Homo sapiens: one gene and its partner. The protein of the gene in region 1 purifies or fractionates together with the protein of each later gene. This does not show direct contact. Each region holds a gene or a part of one and is shown on either strand. Other genes may lie near its edges.

Region 1 (3,821 bases):
TGCATTTCACTCACAATAGTCCTGAAGTGGGGTTGATCCTTAGAGATACAAGTGGAAAACTGAGGCTCGGGGACATTGAATGGCTTACCTAGGGTCAAAGGGCTTCTAAATGACAAAGTCTGGAGCTCAGGTCTTCAGACTTCAAATGGAAAGCTTTTATCTATATCCTATTCCCTCTCTCTCACTGCAATTAAAATAAGAGAAATGTGTTCGACTAGAGGCCTGGGGAGGTCACATGGAAAAAGAGTGGACCCCACTAAGTCTGATTTGGGTTAATGAAGAATAGGCAAGACTTACCCCAAGCCCAGATAACACACTTTTGACAAGTGTGGCATCTATGGATACAAAAAACCACTAATGGTAATGAAGCATCTTTTAAACTTCTTAAAATTTCAACTCATAATAAGAAATACACTTTACATTTCAGTGTATTGTGCACTAACATACCTTTGTGCCAAAACAAAATTTCATGAACCAGTAATTAAATATATACAGTATACCAATTTATGCTATTTTAGTTGTTTAAAAAATGCCAGCCATGATGCAGCAAGAGGTTGTTGACCATACTTTGAATCTCAAACACCAGACCAGAAGGTTCCAACGGTCCCTAGTAGTAACAGGTAATGCTGAATAGATAATAAGGGGCCAGGCTGGAGGGATGTGAAGTGCCAGGACTGGCACTAGGGTTGAAAGTTCTTTTACCACCAAATACTCAACCTTTCTGAAAGGTTTTCATCCTATCACTTAGGCAGACTTTCATCATGGTAATGTATAGAAGGGAAGATTATAAATGTTAAGTTTGGGTAATATGAGAGTTTAAAAAAATTCCTTTAGCTATGTATTACATTTGCATTGGAAAGGTATTACATATTTTGAAAGTACTATTAATGCTTTTTGATCCTTTGCTGTTTTTAAAGGAAAATGATGCTGCTGCTCTATGAAGAAGGCCTCCGGGTTGTCATACACACCTCCAACCTCATCCATGCTGACTGGCACCAGAAAACTCAAGGGTTCGTAGGGGCCTGCTCACTTCCTGGCAGTGTGTGTGTTGATAAAGGTCAAAAGCCAGAACATTCACTTTATTCTTTTTTCTATTTTTTTTTTAAGTTGTAAAAATAACACACATGGCCTAGAAAAAGAGTTGTATGCAGAAAAAGTTACTGTATTCTTTTACTACCTGCCCCATTCTACCTTCTTGGGGTAACCAGTGTTAACAGGAGCATCATCATCCACAGCTACCTCTGCTGTACATGTAAACATACATTACTATTTACACACAGTAGTCTCTTCCTAGTTTTTAGAGAAGTGGCATCATATACACTCTACAGCTAAGTAGAGGGCACAGCACATGCAGAGATCTGAGGCAGAAAAGGGGTTACAGAATGAAAGATCTGAACCTATTGTTTTCCTAGTAGGATTTACCAGATAGCTTTTGTGATTTCTCCTTACTCATGTACCCACCTGTATTTTTGCTTACCACTTCCCAAACAGGAATCAAAGGAAAAGTTGGGGTAGGGCCTGGTCATGTTAATAGTGTGCTAAATATTTCCCCACTCCCCCAGTTGGTGTATTTTCTTTGAAACAAATTTAAGCTGGTGTCTTTTTAGAGCCTTTAGTGTGTTAATAAAGTTGTGAATCTCCAAGAGAAGAACTGAATACGAAAGCTTTTATGAACTTTTTAAACTACTAACCCTCTGTACTTGGTGCACATATGCTAGATCCAGGTTTTGATCCCCTTTTCAAGAGGGGTTTGCTTTTTAAAAGGGAGCTTTAGGGATTTGCTCAACAAGTTCAGCTATTGTTCTTGATTATGACTAACTTTAATTTTCTTTTGTTTAAGCCATTTTGTACATCTCTGCCTGTGCTAGAGAAGAGCTGGTTAACAAACAGCCTTCTGTGTTGGGAGAAACTCGGACGTTTGTCTAGCACCATTTCCAGGTTCACGTTTTCTCTGTCATCCTCCTCTGCCTCACCCTGCCCCATATCATTGCCTAGCTTGGGCTAGAACTCCTAATTTGGAGTGTATTACTTTCAGCTAAGCTCTGCTGAGCCCAGGTTACATCTTTGTTTTGTTTGTTTTTTTGAGACGGTCTCACTCTGTCACCCAGGTTACAATGCTGTGATGCGATCACGGCTCACTTTAACCTCAACCTCCTGGGCTCAGGTGATCCTCCCACCTCAGCCTTCTGGGTAACTGGGACTGCAGGCACGTACCACCACACTTGGCTAACTGTCTTTATTTTTTGTAGAGACAAGGTTTTGCCTAGTTGCCAAGTGATCCGCCTGCCTCAGCCTCCCAAAGTGCTGAGATTACAGGCATGAACCACCGTGCCTGGCCCCAAGTTACATCTTAGTTTGAGCTGAAATAGCTTTCCAGTTTCCTTCAACAGGTCTTGCTTCAACCTGAGTGCACTGCGCAGGACAAATGTAATCTCCCTCCCTTAAAGCAGTCCTTCAGAGTTTGAAAGGGAGTCTTGTTTCTGAGCCTTACATCTCTTGTTCCCTCCCCACTCCCTTGCCCCACCATAGCATGTGGCTTTGAGACCCCTAGCTGTAATTCCTGGTCGCTTTTCTATAAACATGTTATAATTTTTCAGTATCCCACTGAAAATATGCTTTTCAAAATGAAGTGTGGCTCTGACTGGTCCAGGGTTGAGGGGATAGCTGCTTGGTCTCTAAGTCTCAGCTGTAGCACTTTCTTGATCTACTGAATTTATGGTTAACTATGCCTTTGGTACCCCAAGAGCTTCTAAGCCAGTTCTCCTGAGCTGCCAGATTGGGTTTGGGGATTCATGTGGCCCTATCAAAAGGCAATGAGATTAATGTAGCTTGTTCTCATGAAACAATGTTACTAAAGGGATTTCTCAGGTTAGCTCTCAGCCTCACGTGGTTCCAAGAATCCCACCCTGGGCCTCCAGCTCCTTCTGAAGTTGGAAGCTTAGCTTACAGGCAGTAGTACTGTCTTGGGATTCTCTGGGGTGGTTGCCAGGAGGGAAGAGGCAGGGATAAGGGCTTGGGTGTTTCTTTTATTTAAAAAAAGTATTTTTTAATTTAAAATTTTGGAAAACTTATTGACTAGGTAGGAACGGTTCAAAACTCAGAAAGTACCAAGACTATGAAATCTTCCTCTGGCAGCCATCCTGGTGTGGGATCCTATTATTTCATGCTTGGCCTATATTCTACTCTCTAATGTTTTGCATTTCATGTTATTTGTGGTAATTTTAAAACTTTTGAAAGCAGTTTTTGTATACAATCTCACTTCATAATTGGTCTACTGTGGTTCTGCTAATCCCCTTCAGCTGCCTCATGATCCACCTGTTGATTTCTCACTTTTTAAAATTAGAACAAGAGTTGCATCCAAAGCTCACAGTAAAGAATAAAATAAAATTATTTGGCTCATTATAATAATTTTCTCATTTTGTGATGTGTTAAAAATGCCTCATATCTCAGCATCTTAGTTTAGAAAGTCATTTGTCTTGTTTCTCATCCAGAACTCACCTGTGAGTGAATCTCTGATCCAGGAGGAGCCTCACTCAGCCTGGGAACTTTGAGGTGCTATTGCAAGGGGAGGTCCTCCACGTCTGTCCAGCCCAACCTGGTCATTTTACACACGGAGGCAAAGGCCCAGAGAGATCACAGAGCTTACCCAAAATGGTATAGTCAGCTAGTCGATCTGGGTCCAGAACATGGGCTCCAGCCCTCATCACACCATGCTACCTCCTGTGCTAAGTGTCTCCCCAGGGTGGGAAGCAGGGGTATGAAATGCCCCTTGCTAGAAACTTGCAGAGTTGAGAAGATGTACGGCCGAGAGTCCTTGCAGT
Region 2 (3,821 bases), on another chromosome or scaffold:
GTGACTTTGGCATATAAACAATGAAAAACTGTTCTTTTTTTTTTTTTAGCTTGACCAATTTTTTTTTTATACTTTAAGTTCTGGGATACATGTGCAGAACGTGCATGTTTGTTACATAGGTGTATACTAAGTGCCATAGTGGTTTGCTGCACCCATCAACCTGTCATCTACATTAGGTATTTCTCCTAATGCTATCCCTCCCCTAGCCCCTCACCCCCTGACACGCCCCAGTGTGTGATGTTCCCCTCCCTCTGCCCATGTGTTCTCATTGTTCAACTCCCACTTATGAGTGAGAACATGTGGTGTTTGGTTTTCTGTTCCTGTGTTAGTTTGCTGAGAATGATGGTTTCCAGCTTCATCCATGTCCCTGCAAAGGACATGAACTCATTCTTTTTTATGGCTGTATAATATTCCATGGTATATATGTGCCACATTTTCTTTATCCAGTCTATCATTGATGGGCATTTGGGTTGGTTCCAACTCTTTGCTATTGTTAATAGTGCTGCAATAAACATACATGTGGATGTGAAGCTTGACCAGTTTTTATAAAATGATTATACCTATGTGACCACCATCCAGATTAGGTTACAGATACATAATATTACCAGCATTCAGAATGAAAACTGTTCTTTTCATTCTGTACACATTGCCTGAGTGAACCCATCAGCTGGCTTGGTTTTAACTACCTCCTACATGCCCCCAAATTGAAATTGTCAGCTTAGACCTCTCTGAGCTTTACCCTCACATCTGACTATCCTCCTGGACAGCTCTGCCTGCAAGTCCCACAGACACTTCAAATTCAGATGACTGAAACTGAACTCAGTGTCTTTCCTGGACTTAACTCTTATCACATTCATCACTAAGTCCTGATAGTTTTACCCCCTAAACATCTCTCAAATCTGTGCAGTCTTCTCCATCTCTACTGTTGTCCTTTTACCTGCAATATCATGGCCTTCTAACTGATTTCCCTGCTTCTAGGCCTGTTCCCCCATATCTTTTCTTCACATTACTCCCCTCCACCCCCAGATGGTCTTTGGAAACAAGTCTGTATCAAATTCCTGCTTAATCTTTAAAGATCTGTCCATGCATTCATCCATTCTTTTCTCTAATTCATTCAGCAAACATTCATTGTCTACTGGCTTGCAAAATCCATTGAAAGTTCTAAAGTTTGAGCTTCTCAGCCAGGGCTCTGCCTGTTCTGAACCCTGCCTGTATCTCCAGCCTCTTCTCTGCCTCATGCTTTAGGTTCCAGCAACACTGAATGGCATCTTCATGGGTACTGTGCTATTTCTTCTTTGTGTACTTGCCCTTGTTCTCTTTGCTTGGAATCTTCTCCCTGTTTCCTTTCTCCACCTCCTGCTCCTCACCTAATTAGGCTGCTCCTTTTCACCTAATTAACCCAGTTTATAAATGGGACTCAGTTATAAAGTTTAGGTCCACCTCCTCCAGGAAATTTTTTCCTGACACCTCCTTCCTCCCAATCTCGGTTGGGTACTCTAGCATTGTGCTTCCACCCTTTGCACAGAGCAATCATCATGTTTACCACATCTACTATTAACATAATTGTTTGTGTTTTTCTCCTCCACAAGATTTATTTTTTTTAGATGAGGTGTTGCTGTGTTGCCCAAGCTGGACTTGAACCCCTAGGCTCAAGCAATCCTTCCACCTCAGTCTCCCAAGTAGCAGGGACTACAGGTACGTGCCACCATGCCTGGCTAAGGCTGAGTTTTTTGAAGGCTGGGCTCATATATTATCTCTTTATTCCCAGTACTAGAATGGCACAAGATACACAGGAGTGTAGTAATTTTGACTGAACGATCAAATGAGTGAAGCCAAAAGTTATATGATGCAGTGGTTAAGAACCCATTCTTTGGAATTCAAATTGTAGTTCTGGCACATATTGGCTATGTGACTTGAACATGTTACTTATCTTCTCATCCTGAATTTTCTCTTCTCAGAATGGAGTTGTGAGTGTTAAAATGAGACCATGTAAGTAAGACATTTAGCATAGTGCCTAGCACATAGTATGCACTTGATAAAGGTGCTGAAAACCGGGGGATCCTGGAGTAAAGACTAGGCCTGGCCCAGGACAGTGATCTCCCGAAACCCCTCCTCATTGTTTTGTGAATGCGTAGGCAGTGATGCAGTCTGTTAGCAGGGAGATTATAATCTTGTTTGGAAAGTAGAATTACATCCACATTAAACAGTCAGAGAACTGTGAAGGTAGTTTGACCACATCCAATAATAAGATGTAGAGAAGAGAAGACAGCTCAATGAAGGCTTTAGGGAGGAGGTGAGGCTTGAAAGTTAAATAGGATTTGGGTTTTAGGAGAAAGGAATACCAGGAGACCATATTAAGAATGACTTAGGCCAGGTGTGGCTCCTACCTGTAATCCGTGCACTTTGGGAGGTCAAGACAGGAGGATTGCTTGAGGCCAGGAGTTTCAGACCAGTGTAGGCAACATAGTGAGAACCCCATCTCAAAATAAAATAAATTAGCAAGGCATGGTGGTGTGTGTCTGTAGTCCCAGCTACTCCAGAGGCTGAGGCTGGAGGACCACTTTAGCCCAAGGAAGTTGAGGCTGCAGTGAGCTGTGATGACGCCCTGCACCCAATCTGGGCAACAGAGTGAGACCCTGTCTCAGAAAAAAAAAAAAAAGAGCGATTTATTTGGGAGATGCTGTTCAGTATATTATACTTGAAGGGTATACATACAGGCATACCTCAGAGACGTGGGTTTGGTTCTAGACAACTGCAATAAAGTGAACATATGCATGTTTTGGTTTCTTAGTGCATATAAAAGTTATGTTTATACTATACTGTAGTCTGTTAAGTGTGCAATAGCATTATGGCTGAACAAACAATGTACACACCTTAATTAAAAGTACTTTGCTAAAAATTGCTAATAGTCACCTGAGCCTTCAGTGAGTTGTGATCTTTTTGCTGATGTAGGGGGGGTCTTGCCTTGACGTTGGTGGCTGCTGACTGATCAGGGTCATAGTTGCTGAAGGTTTGGATGTCTGTGGCAATTTCTTTTTTTTTTTTTTTTTGAGACGGAGACTCGCTCTGTCGCCCAGGCTGGAGTGCAGTGGCGCGATCTCGGTTCACTGCAAGCTCCGCCTCCCGGATTCACACCATTCTCCTGCCTCAGTCTCCAGAGTAGCTGGGACTACAGGTGCCCGCCACCACGCCCGGCTAATTTTTTTGTATTTTTAGTAGAGACTGGGTTTCACCGTGTTAGCCAGGATGGTCTCGATCTCCTGACCTCGTGATCCGCCCGCCTTGGCCTCCCAAAGTGCTGGGATTACAGGTGTGAGCCATAACACCCAGCCCTTTGTTGGCGTTTTGGTAATGTTCATTACATCTTCATCAGGAATAGATTTCATCTCAAGAGACCGTTTTCTTTGCACATCCATAAGAAGCAACTCCTCATCCATTAAAGTATGATCATGAGATTGCAGCATTTCAGTCACATCTTCAGGTTCTACTTATAATTTTAGTTCTCTTTATTTCTGCTATATTGGGAGTGACTTCCTCCATTGAAGTCTTGAACCCCTGAAAGTCATCCATAAGGGTTGGAATCAACTTTTTCCAAACTCCTGTTTATGTTAATATTTTGACCTCCTCCCATAAATTACAGATGTTCTTAAGGGCATCTAGAATGGTTGTATCCTTTTCAGAAGGTTTTCAATTTACTTTTTCCAGGTCCATCAGAAGAATCACAGTTGATAGCAGCTATACCCTTATGAAATGTATTTCTTAATTAATAACACTTGAAAGTCAGAATTACTCCTTGATCCATGGGCTGCAGAATGGATGTT

The links.
Region 2: the proteins of TDP1 (region 1) and APTX purify together in Homo sapiens (affinity purification with mass spectrometry; one large-scale study listed by BioGRID and IntAct). This does not show direct contact.

What each region holds. Positions count from the first base shown.
Region 1 is NC_000014.9:89,979,623-89,983,443, forward strand, and holds part of TDP1 (tyrosyl-DNA phosphodiesterase 1), read left to right. Parts: intron 1-917; coding exon 918-1,010; exon of another isoform or gene 1,011-1,057; intron 1,058-1,840; exon of another isoform or gene 1,841-1,938; intron 1,939-3,491; exon of another isoform or gene 3,492-3,654; intron 3,655-3,821. UniProt on the Homo sapiens protein: DNA repair enzyme that can remove a variety of covalent adducts from DNA through hydrolysis of a 3'-phosphodiester bond, giving rise to DNA with a free 3' phosphate.
Region 2 is NC_000009.12:32,995,117-32,998,937, reverse strand, and holds part of APTX (aprataxin), read left to right. Parts: intron 1-1,589; exon of another isoform or gene 1,590-1,695; intron 1,696-3,821. UniProt on the Homo sapiens protein: DNA-binding protein involved in single-strand DNA break repair, double-strand DNA break repair and base excision repair.